Regions from separate parts of the Homo sapiens genome. Here region 2 is linked to region 1. A link means that fine-mapping ties the variant in region 1 to the expression of a gene that starts in the linked region. Tissue or cell type: whole blood. Region 1 holds a variant in brackets; the other region holds the start of a gene. All regions are shown on one strand. Distances are from middle to middle.

Region 1 (10,605 bases):
CATATGAAACACATACTTTTACTTAGATGTGTAATGATTTCAAATTAATCCCAGAGTTTTAGGAAACAGAAATGGATTTTTTTTTTTTAAGAGACAGGGTCTTATTCTATCACCCAGGTTGGAGGGCAGTGGTGCAATCACAGCTCACTCCAGCCTCAAGCTCCTGGGCCCCAGCGACCCTGGAACTACACAGTGCACCACCATGTCCAGCTAATTTATTATTTTATCTTTTGAGACGGAGTCTTGCTCTGTCGCCCAATGGAATACGGTGGTGCAATCTCAGCTCACTGCAACCTCCTCCTCTCGGGTTCAAGTGATTCTCCTGCTTGAGCCTCCTGAGTAGCTGAGATTACAGGCGCTGCCACCGTGTCCAACTAATTTTTTTTTTTTTTGGTATTTTAAGCAGAAACGGGGTTTCACCATGTTGACCAGACTGGTCTTGAACTCCTGACCTCTGGTGATCCACCCACCTTGGCCTCCCACAGTGCTGGTATTACGGGCGTGAACCACCATGTTCGGCTGGCTAATTTATTTGGTTTTAATTTTTTGTGGAGATGGGGTTGTGCTATGTTGCCCAGGCTGGTCTCAAACTCCTGGACTCGTGCAGTCCTCCCACCTCAGCCTCCCAAAGCATTAAGATCACTGGCATACCCAGTCCACACACAGCCAGGACTGGACTTTTTTTAACAAGTAGACAAGTAGACATTCACTCAGGAGAGACTTCAACAGGAAAATAAGACTATTAACAACAAATCTTACCAGTGATTCTCCATCCCCGGATGCTAGAAAAAGAAAAGACAAAACATATTTAAATTACAGTGACAACTCCCAGAATTTTAAAGCCCACACAGGAGGAAGCTGTGCTGGTAGATAAAATGTAACATTTCTCACCTCGAGGTTTAACAGAAATCCCCAAAGCCTTGCATCTCCTCACAGACATCTTTGCAAGCTCCATCCACCACTTCTGAAGCTGGCCTGAGTGCCTCTATGCCCCCCTCCCTTCTCCTCCTCCATCATGTGCCATGGGCTGGCACTCAAGCTTGAGAAGATCATTTTGAGAGAGTTAATATATTAACAGGAGGAATGGCAAACAGCCCCCAGGCTGTGGCCATTCAGTGCATTTGTGCTTTATGGGGAAACTTAACTCATGTCCCGCAGAACTATACATGATGGTGCAGGAAAGAGAAAGTCCTTAAGCCTTATAAGCTGTGAGTGTTACTAAGGCACTGCAAATCAGCGAGACAGAAACTGCATTTCTGTTTGTTTGGAGAGTGCTGGAATGCCCACCAGGGGCCCCTGTAGAGTGGCGCAATTCCTCAGCGAAAGCTGATGCTCAGACGAGCTAAGCCCACCAAGACAGATAGGGACTTCTAACCACACTCAATGAAGCTGTGCAACGTTCAACTGGTAGAAGATCCAACCCCCTGATTTTAGAAACATTTACTACAAGACCCTGAGCTTCATCAGGAGTTGAATGTTTACTCTGCTTAGTCTCATACCTGCCTTTTCAATCTTCACTGGGCTCTCCTCTCTGAGTCTCCCTTCCCATTAAGCGACCACAACCCTGGCAGCACTTGCTGTTTGCTGCTGAGACATGAATGTTGGGTGCGTAAACACCACCCATGAGTGAGGCAGAGTTCCCAAGCCTCGGTGTGCCAGCATCACCCAGGGGTTTTAGACATGGGTTAGGAGCATGGCTGGGTGTCTAAATGCTGGAGCAGCATGCTCCCCAGGGCACTCTGGCCCAAGTCATGAATAGTACAAGGACTCTGAACACTCATACTTCTGGACTGGCTTTGCAGTTTTAAGGACAAAGGAGCTGGACTCACTAGCTAATGCCTCCTTCACTTCACACCACAGGAGTCCATTTTGTCTGTTCCTTCACTACCCCATTACCTATTCCGCAGCCATCCTCAATTTTTTTCAAAGCACTTACCATTTGGTATTATGTGTTTGATTACTTTAAAAGTGGCTTTACTGATGGGATTTACATACCATTAAAAGGCATACACTCTAAATGTACAACTTTATGACTTTCAGTACGTTAATTTTAGAGTTGTGCAACCATCATACCCTAAAAGTTTTAGAATCTAAAAAAAAAAACACTTAAAAATTCCCTTGAGTCCATTATCAACTCCATTTTTATCCTAAAAATTATTTTTAAATCAGTTTTAAGAGAACTTCCTACACAAAGTGATTCCAGAAATTAAAGCCTCCCTTCTTCACGCTGAATTCACAGACAATCTCCAGTATGCCCAACCCAAGTGTCTAAAAGGAATCTTCCAAAAAAAGGAAATGTAATATCTAAATTTATGACTGCTCTCATTCCCCAAACCGTATGTATTTGCATCTTCTAGGTTCAAAGTCTAATTGCAGAAAATAGGCACCACAATTAAAATAATGGACTGAACTCTGAAGGGCAGCTTGATAAATAAGGGTGCTAAGCTCAGAGACAAAATCAAAAAATCAATCACTCAGACTGGAGAAGAGATCCGCCCTGTGGCCCCACATACAAACAAACACTCACTGATTATCTGCAGCAGGGGCTGGCATCTCTTCACTTCAAATTATGTTTTAGTTCATGGAAACTAAAGAGAATATGGATATTTTAACACTGACAAGTTGCTTGACCTTCACATTTTCTCGCGATTAGGAAATTATATGAAAAATCCCAAGAAATTTACTCTTAAAATCAATTGGTCAACCTTTACTAGCTCAAAGGTCTCATCTTTATTTTACCACTTAGGAAAATTTAAAAAATAAATAAATAAACAAAAAGAAGCAGCTTCCAAGCTGTGATTCTGCCGATGTTTTTCAAAAATGAAAGTCCCAACTACTTGTGTTTCTTACAATATATAAATTCCAAAAAATTCTATCAAATTATGCATAAAAAATTACAAGAAAAGGGGGACTAAGCAGATGATCCAAAAGCAGCACAACTAGAACCAGCGTACAGCAGTAACGGGTACCTGCAGAGCAAACCCAGCAGCTCTCCGAGGCTGGGAGTGGTCCCCGGGGGGTGCGAACCAGACACAACAGCGGGGCAGAAATGCCAGCTGGTGGAGAAGGGTGCTCCAGGTGTCCAAGTGAGGAAGCAGCCCAGGTGCAAATACTCGATTCAGTTTTCTTAAAACAGAACTGCAAGTTTTTGCCTGGGCTACAGCCAAGCAGAGTAAAGCTCTTCCCTTTCCTGCAGAAGATGACAATCCTACTCTTACTGTCCTAGCTACCTCTGCCCCCCGCGATAAACTTGCCAGCGCACCAACAGAACAGCCTGGGACACAGCAATGTGCCCCTACTGACCACACTTGCCTGAAAAAAGAGGACTAAAGTCTCTGGGTGTTAGGAATCTATCAGGTGACCAAAATTATTTTATATAAGAACATAATGAATATTAACAACCAACAGACTTGCCTTTCAATGGATTGAAGAAGTTGAAAAAGGACTCATTGGGTACTTGTTTCGTAATTGTTCTAACAGTGCCTCGACCCTTATGCTTCTGCTTTTTCTTGATGGTTTTGACAGTAACATTCTTTCCTTTCTTCCAGTCAATAGTACACCTACCAGGACAAGACAGCTGTCAGGAACACACAATCCATGAGAAAAATCCATTACAAATGCATGCAGGAAGCAAACCACAGCTCTATGCCAAACCTGGAAAACGAAATAAAACCAATCTGCAAACCAAATACAATGGCCCATGAAGTTCATCTGGAGGTTGGCAAAAAGAGAAACAGCCTGGTCCTCTTTCAACTTGGGTGTGACCACTGGAACTTCAGACTTCTGGAACAATGGTATTATTTTCCCAAGACATTTCATCAGGACTCTGAAATGTATATTCTGTGGCAAAGCCCCGTCAAGTCTGCATGATGCACAAGAACTTGTCCGCGGTTTCCCAAGGAAGGAGGAGTTGCTGCTGTTCAAAGCAGCCAACTGAGCACGACAAGCTGAAAAAAGGAAAGAGGTGGCCACCGGGAATACTGATGGCCAGTGCAGACCACTCCAGCCCCAGGGATGCTGGCGAGGGCTGAGCACAGCACGCTCTCTCTAACACACAATCACCACAGACCCAGGCAACACCTGGCAGATCTCAATACTGCCCGCTTAAGAACATGCTTGGTAAGGCCAGGCCTTTTTCTCACATGATGTCCTGGCCCTGGAAAATCATCTTTCTAAATTACTCTAGCAGGATTTTAATAAAGTCCTGAATTAACAATTACTATTTACTTCTGGTAAATAAACGTAATTGTTTCAAGTCAAGACTAAAACCATTTCTCAGTCAACCCAACCTGGAGAAATTAATTCTAAACCAAATTCTCTCTTTAGTGATTTATAAAGACTGAAATCAGTGAGTCAAACAACAGCTATGCTGCCCCCACCTATTTCCAAAGCAATCAGCTGATCAATATAGCCCTGGACTCAGACTCATTCATTCAATAAGTATTTATTTGCTGAGGGTAATCCATGGATTCAATTTTAAGAACTTCAATTCACGATGTCTAGAGAATCCACTACTTTCATTAAAATGAAGAAACAGGGCACTATCCCAAAGGCTTGCATGTGCAACCACGTGACTCATTTCCCAGGTTCAGCCGCCATCTCCAAGTTCTGCACTATGAGCATTCCCAAACTGAAAGACTATTGAAATATACATCTACCAGGCTTTTAGGCTTTTAAGCAGACTCAAGACTGTACTTTATTCCTTACTTCTATCTTACCCATCAAGTTACAAAATTATCTTTTGATTTTGTTTCAGAAAAACAAGGTAGAATGACATTTTCTTACCCGTCACAGTCCACAATCTCAGGACCTTCAAAGGAAAAGGGATCAGCCTTATCTGGTTCTGATTTCATCTTGTAGGTTTTTGTCAGGACTGAGTTGGTAAAGTAGTCGTTGGGTTCAAAGTGGAACTCTAACACAAAAGACTAAAAGTAGAAATTCAGAGTAAGCACCAGTTAAAATAGAAAAATAACGAGGACAGATTGCTTGGAGTACACAACACTTACTAGAAGCTATTTTGGGAAAGCTCAACAGATAGGGCCATGAACAAGAAAAACTTCTCCACCGCAAAAAAGACTAGCGTGAGGTTAAAAAAACCAACGATGGACTGGCGGGAAATATCTGTTCAGTTCATGAGTAAGGGGCATGTTCCCCCTCCAATGCCTCCTCACCAATAGGCGTCAAGCTCTCCTAAGAAATCCTAGCTTCTCTTAGCTGCTCCCAGCCCTTGCTTCCTGGAAGGAGGGAAGGTGACTAGGGGAAAGTAAGGGGACCAGCAGTCCATCCTCCTCCTGTCCTTTTCCGCTCAGCCTAAGCCCCAGCCCCCACCCTGCTGGGGGAAGCCAGGGTCTCTACTCTGTGCTGTGCAGTGAAAGCAGTGACCCACAGCTTTTCTCCCGGGAGGTGGGTGGGAGAAAAGGACAAATCTCTACAAGGACAGAAAGCTCATCCCTCACTTACAAAGCACGCTACAGACCTGGAAGAGACGTGAGCACACCGGGAAAAAGGATGCAAACATGAACGCAGGCATAGAACAACCAACAGCAGCAACAAGGCATTCATGCTCACGAGTAACAAAACACATGAACACCAAAATGAGATGCCTTTCTTTGGGGCAAAATGTACAAAAATATGTAGACCCGGCCAGGATTTTGGGGTACTGAGCACACTCATGTACTGTC[G/A]ACAGATTTTATGAAGGACAATTTGGCAATATCAAAAAAAATTAAATTAAAAGGCATATTCCCTGACTCAGTAATTCTATTTTGAGGAATTTGTTCTATTTGAGAAAAATACCTGGATGGATGCATCGATATGTGCAAAGACATTGACCTCATCCCTATTTATAGAAGAAAAACATGGAAGATGCGCTTGGTTGAGTAATTTATAGACAGTTTACAAGACCAGTTCTACGCTCAGACAGCCTGGATTCAAATCCCATCTCTGCCTACACTGCTAGGCAACTCGCGGAAGCTACTCAATGTCTCCGTGCTTTAGTTTCCTCATCTCTACACTGGAAATAACTCTCTCCCTCTCTAGGAGCTGCCTTGGTGGTTAATCTGTATCACTTAGAGCCGCGTTTATAGGCAAGGCTGGCTAAATGTCAGCTGTTTCCATTTTCATTGTAATGGTAAAACCATCAACGGGGGGGAAATTAAGAGGACTAAAAAAAATATACAGCAAAAAAAGTTTATACATTCAAACAAACCACTTGCACAAAGGAGAAGTGAAAAAACAACTTTCAAAGAAAGGTGGAGGAGGAGGCGGGGCATGAGGGCTTAGGAAGTCAGGATCAGGGAGACAGTCTAGTCGGTTTCTAGAAGGGATGACAGCAGGATCTGGCTAGGAGCTCTCCACTGGCCTTGGCAAGAGCAAAGGAAGCGGGTAGGGCACTGCAGATGAACCACACAAACGAAAGGCCAGTCACCTGCCTGGCAAAAATCACAAGGAAAGGAAGAGGCAGCTACAGGGAATCAGCATCAAATAAAATGCCTATTTCTCTCCCAACCCTCCACGGCTTAAAAAAAAAAAAAAAACCAACATAAAGAGGGAAGACAAGTAGCCAACCAATGGAGAGACTGCTATGATTCCAGAACTGTTTAAGGCTGTGACCACAGTGTGGACAACCAACCCAGGGCATGGGGTGGCCCCAATAAAACAAATAGTACTATTAGACTTGTGGTCCTTCACCATGTCCTACTCATTTTTTCCCCTCCTTTTTACTTTCTCTTTTAAAGACCAGTTCTCCCTATGTTGCCCAGGCTGGTCTTGAACTCCTGGGGTCAAGCAATCCTCCCACCTTGGCCTCCTAAAGTGCTGGGATTACAGGCATGAGCTACCACACCCAGCCTACTTTTCTATAGATAGATTCATGTTTCTTCCTATTTTCCTTTTTTCTCTCCCCTCTGCCTTTGTTCAGTCAAGAGTAACCCAAAGACAACTGAAGATGATTCAAGAAACTGTTTAGCTGCCCAAATGAAAAGTGGCTTGAAAATAAGACTGCTTCATTCACACACGCACTACAGCCAGGTAAGCCATAAATATGCTAACCATGCTCAATCTTACAAGCAACTAAAGAAATGCAAAATTAGGCAGGGCCTGAGTGGCTCATGTCTGTAATCCCAACTGAACGACCTTTGGGCCTTCTAAAGCTTCATCTTCTTTGACTGGTAAGTACACTGAAAGGAACCTAAACTAAGGAAACCATCAAACATTTAATTTAACACAAATTTGGGTTCAAGTATGCTGATCATAATGCAACAATTTACAATGGGGGAGGTGGGGCATGTAGGGGAATGTTAAACTGTTTTATAGCCAATGGCTGCAGTAACAACTATTCCCCCAGCCAAGCCTGTGTGATGTGGCAGCAGGGTGACACTGTGCACACACCATGTGGTGTGGCAGGAGCCGTGTGGCACACGTGTGCACTGTGTATCCAGGTAGGCAAGCGCTCAAGGGAAGGGAATGAGGCATGCTGCAAAAACACCAGTCAAGACTCATTTTGAAGTTTCATTTATCTTTATAACTTAAAATGCATTAGACGCTTCATAATAATTTTACAAAGGAAAAAGAGTATGGGGAAATTCACTAAGCTGCTGAGATTTACTTTTAGAAGACAGATTTGTATAGTGTTCTTTACACTTGCCTGTATTTTCTACATATGACTTTTATAATAGGGAAGTAAAAAGAAAAAAAAAAATTACTGGTCCACAGTCTACCATAACCAGAGCTCTAGTCTATGAGTCACAATGAGATGGAGAAAAATAAGATGACAGGCTAAGAAAGAAAGAAAATTGACCTAGGAAATCATCAAACAGGTGTCCAATAAGAAAAAAAGAGGCCGGGTGTGGTGGCTCATGCCTGTAATCCCAGCACTTTGGAAGGCTGAGGCGGGTGGATCACGAGGTCAAGAGATTGAGACCATCCTGGCCAACATGGTGAAACCACGTCTCTACTAAAAATACAAAAATTAGCTGGGCGTGGTGGTGCGTGCCTGTAGTCCCAGCTACTCGGGAGGCTGAGGCAGGAGAATCGCTTGAATCCAGGAGGCAGAGGTTGCAGTGAGCCGAGATCATATCACTGCACTCCAGCCTGGTGACACAGTGAGACTCGGTCTCAAAAAAAAAAAAAAAAAGAAAAAAGAAAAAAAAGGAAGAAAAGAAAAGGAGAAAAAAGAAAGGAAAAAAAAAGGAACTGACCCAAAAGGGAAAAAAAGTTAATTGCGTCTGGATGAATCACAGGTAAGAAAGAAGTACAAAGAAAAAACGCACAGAAACTTAAAGCACCGCACGCTCACACCATGGGGAAGAGAATGCACACCAACGAGGGCAAACTAGGCAGACGTGCCCAGGCGGCTCCTGGGGGCCCTGTGATAAAGTCTAAACAGAAGTGATGCAAGCCCAGGAAGAAGGACCTGCTATAACCCACATGGGGCAAGGAAGATGGGGTATCCCCTCTGGAGGGCAGCCCCCAGCTGGTGAGCAGGCATCACTCCCAGCTCCCAGGGCCCCACCTAGAGAGGGACACCTGAATGTCACCTTCCATAGTGGAAAACAGACAGGAAAAAGTAGAAGAGACAGATACAGGTACATCCACTGCCCACCCCTGCTGCTGCCCCAGGCATTACTTGCAGCACTTGCAGTGAAGAAATCCCACTCCTAGTGGCCCTCATCCATTAGCCCAGGCCCCAGTGCTGAGATGGGGAGGAAGGAAGATACTGGTGACTGGCCCCAGGCCCCTACCACCATCACCCACACCCAAGATCCCTAACCCACAGCCCGTCATGCAGCATTTGTCTCCAAGACCTGAAACTGAAAGCCACCAGTCAGTCAGTCATGTGTCGCTGGAAATGCTATTGCACCGGAATGGAACCCATTAGCTACAGCCAGGCTAACGGGTTACGAACAGTGCTCCCTGGGAGAACCAGGCTGGGATGAGACAGTCTGGCAAGGCCATTTGAAGATGAGCATATGGTTCCTCAGATAAAAGTAAGGGCTGACCTAGTCAAGCTTATCTTACCAACTGGTAGGCTGATCCATGCCACTAACATTACTAATGCAATGATATGCCATGGCAAGCATATTGTAAAGACGTGTTTCAGGACAAATCAAAGAGCAGGAAAACATTTTTCAGTCTTATTTGCGCTTTTTTTTTTAGGGTAAAACCTAGTAGGTTCAGATTTCTGAATAAGTGCTGATCATTATGTGTACATAGCTCCCATCTTTTTAAACGTTAAACATATACATTAGATGCATGCAAACTTCAGAGACACTTGGGAAAAGAATGGTATCATCTCCACCCAACAGAGTAAACAAACAAACTACAAGACCAAGGCCTGGCACAGTGGACAGCACCACTACAGCCCAGGAGTTGCAGCCTGACTCCTGCATTGGTGCCCACCTGGCTGCAGGGTCTGGGGCATCACATGGTCTGCATCACTGTCAAATCATCCAGCACAGACTCACGACTACAGTGCCAAGCATGACACAGAAAGGCAATGGGATCCCCATCGAACTCAGGGAGCAAACACACAATGCGGTACTCAGTCTAACTCTTGGAGAGCAGTCTCGCCCAGGGCTGCCCAGCAGATGAGTGGCTGGGTGTGGGTTTTGTGGGTTTCTTGCCCCTGGCTCCAAGTTCTTCCATCTTTGTGGACTGACCCTGTCTGATGCCAACCAGAAGGTCAAGTCAGTACTCACCATAGGCTGTCCAGGGTCAGAAAATTTCACTTTAATATCCTGCAGGTGTTTCAAGATTGGTTCATCATATTCCTAATCAAAAAGAGAAAAAAAATTCCAACAGGCTTTTAAAAAAACAACACATCTCTCCCGAAGAGTCATGGTTGCAGAGGCTCCCAGATGTTGCATAACTAGCCCTATTGGAATTCTGTCCTTGTCAAAGTAATAACTACCAGGAAGAAACCCAGACTTATTCACCAACTCCCTGTCATAGAGAAGCAGCACCAAGGTGTCCCCTTTCCCTAGTGTGGAGCAACGGTGGCTGCCACTGCCAGCAAAGGGCAGTGCCACTGACACCCGCCTGCCTGCAATACTGGGGCAAGGGCCTTCACTGCTTTCCTGCCACCAGCTGCCACTGCACACAGAGATCAGAAATGCTACCAACCAAGACTGTTGGTCCTCAGCCTCTCTGAGGAGAAAGAGCAGAAGCCTGGAAGTCAGAAGAGAAGGCTAGATCGGCTACGGCCTTGGCAGCCAGCTTCCCCACCTGTGGCAATAAAGTTGTGCATGGCTTAACAATGGGGGCACCTCCTGAGAAACACATTGTTAGGCAATTCGGCGTGTGTTCATCAGAGCATATTTACACAAACCTCGATAGTGCAGCCTACTATCCACTATTGCTCCTACGCTGCAAACCTGAACAGCATGGGACTGTACTGAATACTGGAAGCAGCTGGTGATGGTACTTATTTGTGTATCTAAACACAGAGAAGGTACAGTAAGAATATGGTATCATAATCTTACAGGACCGCCATCCTATATGCAGTCTGTTGTGACCAAAATGTGTTATGTGGCTCATGACTGTATCCAAAACTCACAATACACACAGTCACTTCTTTATTTTTTTTGAGACGGAGTCTGGCTCTGTTGC
Region 2 (10,605 bases), 32 kb after region 1:
ACCCTCAGGTGATCTGCCCACCTCAGCTTCCCCCAAAGTGCTGTGATTACAGGCGTGAGCCACCATGCCAGGCCCATGATAATGTTTAAAAGCAATGAATAGGCTGGGCACGGTGGCTCACGCCTGTAATCCCAGCACTTTGAGAGGCCCAGGTGGGCAGACCACCTGAGGTCAGGAGTTCGAGACCAGCCTGACCAATATGGTGAAACCCGTCTCTACTAAAAAGATACAAAAATTACCCAGGCGTGGTGGTGAGCACCTGTAATCCCAGCTACTTGGGAGGCTGAGACAGGAGAATTGCTTGAACCTGGGAGGCAGAGGCTGCAGTGAGCCGAGATCGCGCCACTGCACTCCAGCCTGGGCATCAGAGCGAGACTCCACCTCAAAAAAAAAAAAAAAAAAAAAGCAATGAATAATACATGTTTGCCCACTAAAGAACAAGTTCCACGAGGGCAGGGACCCTGTCTACTTGCTCAATACAGAAGTCCCAAGGCCCAGCAACAGACTCGGGATGAGACTGGTTGCCAAGAAATCTTTGCTTAACTCACTGCTACCAAATGACAACTTGTCTCTGTGTTACCAGTACCCAGCACGCATGGTGCCCGGGACTGCATGCACACATCTCAAGCAGTTTCTGAAGACACAGAGGAGAAACACTGCCTTAGTCATTCATGTTTGGTTACAAGATCTACTGAAATACCTGCCTCCAAACAGCAGCAGACTGTCTCTTCAGAGACTTCTGCGGTGCCAAGCCCTGGGGTTTCAAGAAGAAAGCAAAAAATGATTTCCTTTCCTTAACCAAAACACTACATTTTACTTGGGGCGCAGCAGTCTTTACTGCTGCACTCCCATCTCCTCCACCCTTCTTTTCTGGGCAGTTCATTAGCATACGACTCAATGAGGCTAACTTCTTAATCCAGTACATATTAAAAGATCTTGTCATCTTGTCAATAAGGCACTTCCCTCTCTACCTATTTCATATTGCAACCACCAAAGTCCCTACTCCTCTGCACTGTTTTTCAAAAGCACCTGCCACCATTGAACTTGTTCGTCTGTCTCCCATAGCAGAAACAAGGACAAAGACTTCTGTTTTATTCTGCGGGAGGCCCCAGTACCTAGAACTGTGCCCAGTACATAGAAGATGCTCATGAATAAGTAAACAGATGCAAATCACTGAAAGCTACTTTTCGGTAACTGAGTAAACAAGTACTATTTTAATTATTATACTTAAAACCTTTGCACATAAAAGTGCACAGTCATTCTTTCTACCACAAATTAAACAGAAATTATCTCATCTTGTTTTTGAACAGGCTTTTCCAGATAATGCACAGCGCATTTTTAAAAGTCCCAAGGACATGAAATGAACATACATTTCGTTTTTAACAGTTAACAGGGGATACTTGTAAGAAACTTAAGGTTACACAGGAAGTGGTCAAAATCAAAAAGTAAAGATCACAAAGTGATCTTTCGTTGTTTTCATACTATAAAAACACAATGCCTCTGTTACTAAATGCAAAATGTAAAGCTCTGGCAAACAAAGTAAAGCAACCCTGTTCTCTCTTAAGAGGGCAGGGTGGAAAACCAATGACTGCCAGATGAAAACTAATTTATATCACCACAAACTATTTCTTAAAAATTTCATTAGCAGCCAAATACAAAATTATTTACTATCTACCTACTGATAAGGGTTTTCCATTACTATATGCTCAAAGACAAACCTTACAACTATAGTTTCGGGAGGCATAAATTTGCTTACCTCAGGAGGTCCCACAAAAATTCAGCTGAGGCCAGGTAACAGCAGTTTCCTGCAGAGATCAGCTACTTCCTATCACCATAGTGGTCGAAGAATCAAACGAAGTAATATCAGATTTCTACTCTGGAAGCCTAAAACACTTTTCCCTTTAAGCAAAAAAGCAAGCATTCCTTAGCTAGCAATCTCAGGCCAAACTCCCAACAAGCTCATCTCTGCTGTCTTATTCAAATATAAACCATCATGGTTTCAAGCAGTAACAGCACTCGCCTATTTCACACAGCTGACGCCTCTTAGGCCGTCAGGAATTTAAATCACCTTCTTGCCCACAAAGTATTTTTCTTCCAAAACAAACTGAAAAATATAGGCTCTTTGGCAACATTTTTGGAAGTACAACATAAACTTATCACAATAATTTTTAAACTGCAGACAACTAAAGGGAAGGAAGAAAAGCACTACTATATATACATACATATTTGAGGTCACCTCCTCCTGATGCTAGAGACTATCAACTGCTCAAAAGAAGGAAAACAAAATAAAGATTTCAGTCCCCACACTTAGCTGCGAATAGCTAACAAAGGGAATTAACATGCGGTCAATAACAAGAGGCTACTAAAAACTCTGACAGGTTAGGAAGTTTTCATTTCAGTTTCAAATTCAAATTCATACTGTAAAGTGGTGATGAACACATCCCATCCGCAGGTACTTAACCTCCATACAAATAAGAACTACCTCTCATATGGGCAAAAAGATCAAAATTCTACAGAAGAATCTGATGGCTAAATGGCTAATTTGCAAAACACAATGCCCTGTACATTTTGAGGACATCCTAAAACATGTGTAAACTTTTCAGAATTCAGTTTACCAAAGTTATCAAACTTAAAAATGATTAAAATTTATTTGCTACTGCAAAGAATTCAACCAATTTCTCCAATGACTACTCCATATTCATTTTGAAAAACAGTACCGGATTTAAAGCTTACACAACAAAATTCACAAAAGTGTTATATGTGCCTATATGACATATAGGCACAAATAACTGCAGACATTCTGAAGCTAACACTGCTCAACCAGGAAAAAAAAAAGACTGCAATTGGATATGTAATAACAGCTATTTAAGACGGCAGTAACGTGTTAAAATGGTTCATAAAAATCACATCATAAGGCCCTGAAATTCTAGTAAAAATATCTCTAAGTAAACTTGTGAACTACTACTAAATAACTAATTTTCTCTCTCTCTGTAGTCACTCATTTTATCTTTGGATTACTTTCCCATTCTATCACCACGTTGCTTTCTCTGAACTTCATTTTACATTTGCATATTATTTATTCCATTAGCAATTGCTCATCCCAGTCTGAATCTCAAAATTCTACTATAGGAGGCATTTGGCATTCTGTGGAATAAGAGAATTTTGAGATGGAAATGATCAACCAGCTCAAAACCTCGTAAGCTAGAGTTCAGTTAAGCTTAGCACAATGATGAAAACAATTTCTCATTAAAACTTCTTTCATTCCCTCTACAGAAGCAGTAACCCTGGGTACAGTTAAAACTGCCTGGGTCTTTAAGCTTTGTCACCTCGGACAAGTCATTATACCTAACCTCCCAGGGCCTCAGCTTCCAGAGTAGTTAAATGGAAAAACAATAGCATCTATCTCAGGTTATTAGATTATGAAATGAGTTAACACACGCAAACAGGCTGAAAGAGTCCCTGGTGCGCAGTGCAGGTATTAGTCATTTAGAGGTATAGTTACTATTACAGGAAGGTAGTAACTTAGAAAGACTTACCTTTAAGGTCCAACAACCTAATCTACATATTTGTATATTTCTAAGGTAAGAGAATTTTTAAAAGTCTATTTTCACCCCGTAAACCTAATGCAGGAGGATAAGGCACGGGTTACTACAGGAAAAAGTAATGCAGACTGGGGGATGCGAACCAAAGCACAGACGAATGTGCCCCGACGATTCCTCCGAGAACATAATGAAATGGCGGACCTTCCTGCCAGAGGAGCGCACAGTCACCCAGGCAGGTGATGTGACACACACGTTAGGGTCTAAAGGTCCCAAGGCTGGAGTCCCCTTTACTGGACCCTAAACATGTCTGCCTCCTGCCCCGCAATCAGACTTAGAGAACTGTGGACGGTGGAAAGTCTTATCATGACCAGGCCATCCTTCGCTGGGGTGAACGGAAAGCATTCAGAAGGGGAAAATTGAAAACAACAAAGACTCTGGTCAGGTCAAAAAATACAAATGTGACCTCTTCCACCATCTCTGAACTGAAAGAAAAGCATGGCACTTTCCCATCCATAACATGTACAATTTTTTTTTTTGGAGATTTTGCTTTTCCCTTGTGAAAGACGGTTTTAAATAGTAAACAGACTTGCTGCCCACCTTGGCTGGGAAACCAAGTCCCGTGAGTAACTAGTCTAAGGCCACTCAGGCCAGTCCTCGGGGAGCGCACGCCGCCCAGCTCGCTCCCACCGCACAGCTCCCAACAGCTAAGAAGCAACGCCAAGGACTTTCTTCCCCGTCAGACATGCCCTCGGCCACACCAAACTGACATCAAAACCCCAGTTAGCCCAGCCTGACCCCACAGAGGCTCACGATGACAACCGCCCTACGGAAAAACTCAAATTCCTAAACATCTAATAAAGAAGTCCTGGACGTCTCCACCTTAAAAACGGGAAGCCTGAACGCTCCGGCGCGCCCGGCCGTGTAACCGCCACAGCCCCCGCACGCGGGGCGGGCTGGGCTAGCGGGAGATTTGAGCGGCCGCCGCCTCTCGCCGTCTTCGCCTCCTCCAAGGGGCCGCCGCCCAGGAGGCCGCCCGCGGCGCAGAACAAAGCGCCTTGACCTTCAGTGAGGCGGGCAGCCGGGCGAGGCGCGCCGGGAGTTGGGAGGGGCCTCCCGCCAGCGCCCCAGGCCCGGGCTCCAGGCCCCAAGCCCCAGGCCCCGCCGCGGCCGCCGCTGCCTGCCCCGACCAGAACGCGGCCCCGCCCCTGCCCCACCGCCCCGAGGCTTCCAGAGATGGCCGCCGCCGCGCCCGCGCCGGACCCGCGGCCCCACCCGCCCGTCCGGGCCCGGCCGCCCTCCCCAGCGCGCCGTTACCGGCCCAGCACCCGTGTCTCCGCACCTCACGCCTCCTGCGGCAGTGGCGGCGACCCTAGCTTCGCTCGCTTTGGGGCTGCGCCGCCGTGGCCTCCAACAACGCCGGCTCCCATTGGCCGAGGCTCCTAGCTCCTCTCTCCGCGAGCAAGACAGGCTGCGATTCGCCGAGCGCGGCGCAAGTCAACTGCGCTTCGCGCCGCAGTCAGCAACCAATCACAAGCCTCCGAAGAAACGCCGCGCCATATGCAAATATTCCTCCGCGCGGCGCGCGCCCTGCGTTCCTCCGCCTCTTTAAATGGGGCGGGGCAAGGTGGAGACCGCGTGTGTGGTTCCGGGGGGTCCCGGGTCCCCGCTCCCGGGACCTTCCCCGGGTGGCACCACATCCTCGCGGGACACTGGGCACCACCCCTCTCCGTGGGCCCCGGCCCCAGCCGTCTTTATCTCCTGCGCCCTCCCAGTTCCCTAGTTCAATCCCGTCCGCGGCGGGTCGGTGCCTCCAGCACTCCGTGCGCCCGCTGATGTGAGAACCCCACCTCCCATGTCGTCCCCTCGCGCTACTCCTTGAGAACATCGCGGAGGGCCCCTCCGCCTGGGAGCCGTTTTCAACCAGCCCCGTTAGTGGTTGGGACGTAAGCCTAACCCCCGCTCATCCCCCAGGTCCCAGGTTGGAGAACACTTCCTCTGCGAAGAGGTCGGGGCTGGGTCACCTCCGCGGACAGGACGGGACTAGCCACTGCCTGCATCTCTTCCCCCACGCCCTGAGCCCCGCAGTGTCCCAGCAGCCTAGTTCTGGCCTGCGGGAGACCCTGTCGGACAAGGAGGAAAAGCAGTGCGCACTGGGCCCTCAGATCAGCCCCCTGAAGCAGAGCAGGGCAGAGGGCTGGGGAGGAGCTGGCCTGTTTCGCCCGCCCTGTTCTCCCTCTCATGGTGCCCTCTGGGCTGGGGTGAAGGTACCAGCCCCAGCCTGTGCACATCACATTTTGTAGAAAGGCATCCAATTTGATTGGAAAATAACCCCTACGCTGGGACTTTTGAGGCTGGTTCATTTCCATGTTCAACCGTGCCATTGGGGGTCTTCAAGTCTAATGTGCATTTTTTTCAGAAACGTTCTCTTTTGGGATGACGTTACTTTTGAAACAATTGCTAATTATTATTATTATTAGCAAGTTATTCCTGTAATGGGGAAAATTTGAAACCATTTAAAGGCTCCTGGTTGAGGGATTAAGAACATAGCGTCGGTTATAAACCTCAGAGGTAAGCTGGGAGGCTGAGGCAGGAGGATTCCTTGAGCCCAGAAATTCAAGTCCAGCCTGGGCAACATAGTGAAACCTCATCTCTAAAAAGAAATTAATGCGGAGCGCCGTGGCTCAGGCCTGTAAACCCAGCACTCTGGGAGGCAGAGGCAACAAGTCCAGCCTGGGCAACATAGAGCACCCTTCCCCTGCTCCAAAAACAACAACAACAAAAAATTACCCAGGCGTGGTGGCTCAGGCCTGTAATACCAGCTACTTGGGAGGCTGAGGTGGGAGAATTACCTGAGCCCGTGAGGTCAAGGCTGCAGTGAGCAGAGATTGGGCCACTGCACTCCAGCCTGGGTAACCAGAGGGGGACATTGTCTCAAAAAGACAAAAAAAAGGCCGGGCGCGGTGGCTCAAGCCTGTAATCCCAGCACTTTGGGAGGCCGAGGTGGGCCGATCACGATGTCAGGAGATCGAGACCATCCTGGCTAACACGGTGAAACCCCGTCTCTACTAAAAATACAAAAAAATTAGCCGTGCATTGTGGCGGACGCCCTAGTCCCAGCTACTCGGGAGGCTGAGGCAGGAGAATGGCGTGAACCCGGGAGGCGGAGCTTACAGTGTGAGCCGAGATCGCACCACTGCACTCCAGCCTGGGCGACAGAGCGAGACTCCATCTCAAAAAATAAAAAATAAAAAAAAAACTAATTAAAACAAAAAACATAAAAACCCCTCAGAGGTGACCGGTGCATGGCTGAGGCCTGACCCACACAGCGTGCTCAGTCCTGTCTGGCCATCTGTGTTTTAGGAGAGGGTGTGTGTGCTCTCAATTCCTATTTTACTTATTTAGACTTTCAGACTTTTCTACAAAGGTCATGCTTTATGCTTTGCGGAAGCATAAACAATGATAGAAATGACACAAGAACCTGGGCATTTGAAGTTTGGAGGGTCCTTCCTCCCATCTAATAAAGTCTCAAGACCATTTGCAGTAATGGGATCCCCCTGCTCCTGGATGTTGGGGTTGGTGGGGGTGGCATCCGGGTGGGTGGATCCTCTGAGGGAGCTGGGCCTTGGGGCTGGGGGCAGCTGGACCTGCTCCCTGGGAGATCTGCTGGAACTGGAATGATTGTGGTGGTGGTGTTTTTCTCTTGGTGGTTGGTGGTTTCTCTCCTTGGAAGATTCTCATTTGGAAATAGAGTCTTCACAGATGCAATTAGGTAATGAGGTCGAGTGGGCAGATTGCTTGAGCCCAAGAGTTCGAGACCAGCCTGGGCAACATGATGAGATCCCATCTCTACCAAATATCTAAAAATTAGCTAGGCATGGTGGTGCATCTATAGTCCCAGCTGCTTGAGAGGCTGAGGTGGGAGGATCACTTGTGCCTGGGATTTAGAGGCTGCAGTGAGCTGTGATCATGCCACTGCACTCCAGCCTGGGTGACAGAGCAAGACCAAGACCCTGTGTCAAAACAAAGAAGTCCCCAGATGACACTGACATGCAGCCAGAGCTGAGGGCCACTGGGATCAGGACTCCCAGGGTAGCTGGCGCTTGGTGAGTTTCATTCCTGTTTTCCCAGCGCTGCCTCTGCCAGGCCTCAGGCATGAGCCCACCTGTCTACAACCCCTCTGCTGCCTCAGCCTCCTCCAACCTGGAGATCAAGAGTCCCCTCCAGAGGCTACCTTGCCTGTAGTTCTGCTCTTGGCTGCCTTGTCCTCACTGAGGCTCCGGGAGACAGTCCCGGACAGACACCACGTGTTTCTTCTTCACATTGCCAGCACCCGGAAAAGTGCCTGGCACTTGGCGAGCTGTGCCCTTACCTGGGCGCTACTGACAATGGCTACACCTTGGCCTGGAAGTAGAGGCAGCAATCACTGCCCCATTCAACAGAGGAGAAAACAGAGAAACCCCTCTAACGCCCCCAGCTAAGTGGCTCTGGCCCTGGAGGGGGCGGCCATGCCCTTCACCTGTGGTGGGGGCGCTACTCCTCAAAAGACCTCGCAGCCGCCAAGAGCTGGAGCCGAGGCCTCAGAAATGCCCAAAGCCCCCTCAGTAGGCTGGGGGCTCAGCCTGTGGGGCATTAACAAAGTGGGGCCCTGGAGACATCCAAGAGAGGTGGCTGGTTTCTCCTGGTATATGGAGAACAGAAAACACCCATGGCGTACTCCACACAAGAGGGGTGCGCAGACAGGGAGTGCCTTTGCAAGCTTCCCGGCCTCAGAAAGAAGGCATCTGGAAGACTGTACCCCAAATGTTGTAGGGATTTGAGAGGTAGGGCACGGGGTCTTTCAGTTTCTACTTTATATTGGAAGTTTTCCGTATTATTTATTTTTAAATAATGAATACATGACGTTTTTATAGTAAAGACACCAAAGATTGCTCTTTGGGGAAAAACAGGAAGATGTAAATCTGGCTCTTACAGCTGAACAGAGCTTTCATGTACAGAAAAGAAACACTTTCCACAGGCAAACTAATATTATACAAGAAAAGTGTCCACCCCACGTTGTTCCAGAAGGATCTGCTGCAGCCTGACAGCAAGAGATTGCAGGGTAGGGAGGTGCTGGGGTCCTCTTGGGGGCCAAGCCAATGGCCTGGGCCCAGCCAGCCTATTGTCACTGCAGGCCCTCGGACCCAGCCTGGGGAGACTGGAGGAAGTCAGGGAAGGGCAGAGAGAAGGCGCACCGGGCAGTGGGCCCTCAGAACGGGGAAACTCCAGGCAGAAAAGCGGCCCAGAATCACTCTGAATTGGGGGGCGTGAAACAGGGGCCACAGCCTGGCCCTACTGCAGTCCAGGTGGAGCCAGGCCTTCACCAGCTGTGGGGACCAGGCGTGCCCCTGGCAATCTGGATACGTTTTTGTGCAGCCACCACTGGAAATGGGGCACACGCCACTCCTTCTTGCCTCCTTGGATGGCACCGCGGCTTTGGGCCAACCTCCGCTCACCCCAGTGGTGGCAGCTAAAGACAAGGGTATTTCCTCATGGCCCAGTTGTCAGGATATTTGATACATGGTTTCCAGCACAGGCCAGTAAAGAGGATACACTGTGGAAGGGATTGCTGCTGCTGCAGTGCCGGCTGCACTTCATCAGTTTCCTTGGCTAAAGGATACTGAGTTACAGGTTTCAGGCTACTTTGTATCTCATTAAAGACACCTCTCCATGCAGCCGCCATTATCACACTAACAAAATTAGCAAAAATCTTGACTGTCATCCAATACCTGGTCATTCAAATTTCTTGAAATTTTTTTTTTTTTTTTTTTTTTGAGACGGAGTTTCGCTCTTGTTGCCCAGGCTGGAGTGCAATGGCGAGATCTCGGCTCACCGCAACCTCCACCTCCCGGGTTCGAGCGATTCTCCCGCCTCAGCCTCCGGAGTAGCTGGCATGTGCCACCATGCCCAACTAATTTTTTTGTATTTTTAGTAGAGACAGGGTTTCTCCATGTTGGTCAAGCTAGTCTTGAACTCTCCACCTCAGGTGATCCGCCTGCCTCAGCCTCCCAAAGTGCTGGGATTACAGGCATGAGCCACTGTGCCCGACCCCCTTTGAAATGTCTTTACAGCAGGTTTGTTCAAATCCTTCAAAGATTATCCCTCAAACCTGGTGGTTTTGTTTCTCGAGTCTCTCCCAGTCCTTCTCTTCTGCCCTATTCTGCTCCCTTTGACGCAGACGTATTGAAGATGCCAGCCGGGCATCTGGCAGAATGCCCCACCTTCTGCACAAATGTGGTGGCTGCTTCATGGCCTCACCTGCATTCTCCCTCTGTTCCCAGTATTTCCTGCAGACAGGAAGTGAGCTGGACAGCCTTGCTCCTGAGGGGGCTGTAGCCCGGCAGCACAGGCCACAGCTGGGAGACTGCAGGAATGCAGAATCTTGGGCTCCTCCTAGACCTGAACTGAAATTTGTGTTAACAAGCAACCCTGGGCAGTTTATACGCACATTCAAGGTTAAGGAGCCCTAGCCTAAAAGCTGCATTCAATACTGACTTATACTTTTAGAGGAAATCCTTCTTTTTGTTGGGGGGCTGACAGCCAGGGCCCAACATCAGAAAGTAACACGTATCCCCTCCTGGAAACCTACAAGTTACTCACAAGGTGACACTTTGGCATCAAATTATCCAGCACCTACCAGCTTTCATCCAGGGGTCTCAGCATCCGCGGTCAGCCCCTGCCTGAATCAATGACTTCATTCGGGGTTGCAGAATGGAGATGTCTGATCCTGGTGCTTCTTCCCTTAGCTGGCATCTTTGGGGGAAAGAACAACTTTCCCCTTTCAGCTAGGGCCATTTGGTGGCCCTGAAATATACTTCCCATGCAAGGTAAAATACTTGCTTCTGTCACTAATGAGTAACTCTACAGAAAGGAGCTGACACAGGCCACCTCCAGTAACGACAATATGTTTTAGCTTTCTCTAGTTTTGAGAATAAATACAGATGCCTGGAGTTTTTTTTTTGTTTGTTTGTTTTTGTTTTTTGTTTTGAGACAGAGTCTTGCTCTGCCATCCAGACTGGAGTGCAGT

The links. PIP is the estimated chance that this variant, and not a neighbour inherited with it, causes the effect.
Region 2: it holds the start of NAP1L4, and the variant in region 1 is fine-mapped to the expression of NAP1L4 in whole blood (INTERVAL, PIP above 0.99).

The regions. Positions count from the first base shown.
Region 1 is chr11:2,954,985-2,965,589 of GRCh38, forward strand. It overlaps NAP1L4 (nucleosome assembly protein 1 like 4), which reads right to left. Exons shown (of 16, transcript NM_005969.4): 8 at 9,696-9,767; 9 at 4,786-4,925; 10 at 3,415-3,560; 11 at 760-782. SNORA54 (small nucleolar RNA, H/ACA box 54) reads right to left here and starts at 8,909; the gene lies at 8,787-8,909. RefSeq lists enhancers at 5,859-6,365, 10,135-10,605. The variant G/A (reference allele first, on the strand shown) is at 5,682.
Region 2 is chr11:2,987,373-2,997,977 of GRCh38, forward strand. NAP1L4 (nucleosome assembly protein 1 like 4) reads right to left here and starts at 4,957. Exons shown (of 16, transcript NM_005969.4): 1 at 4,882-4,957. RefSeq lists enhancers at 3,526-4,382, 4,927-5,221.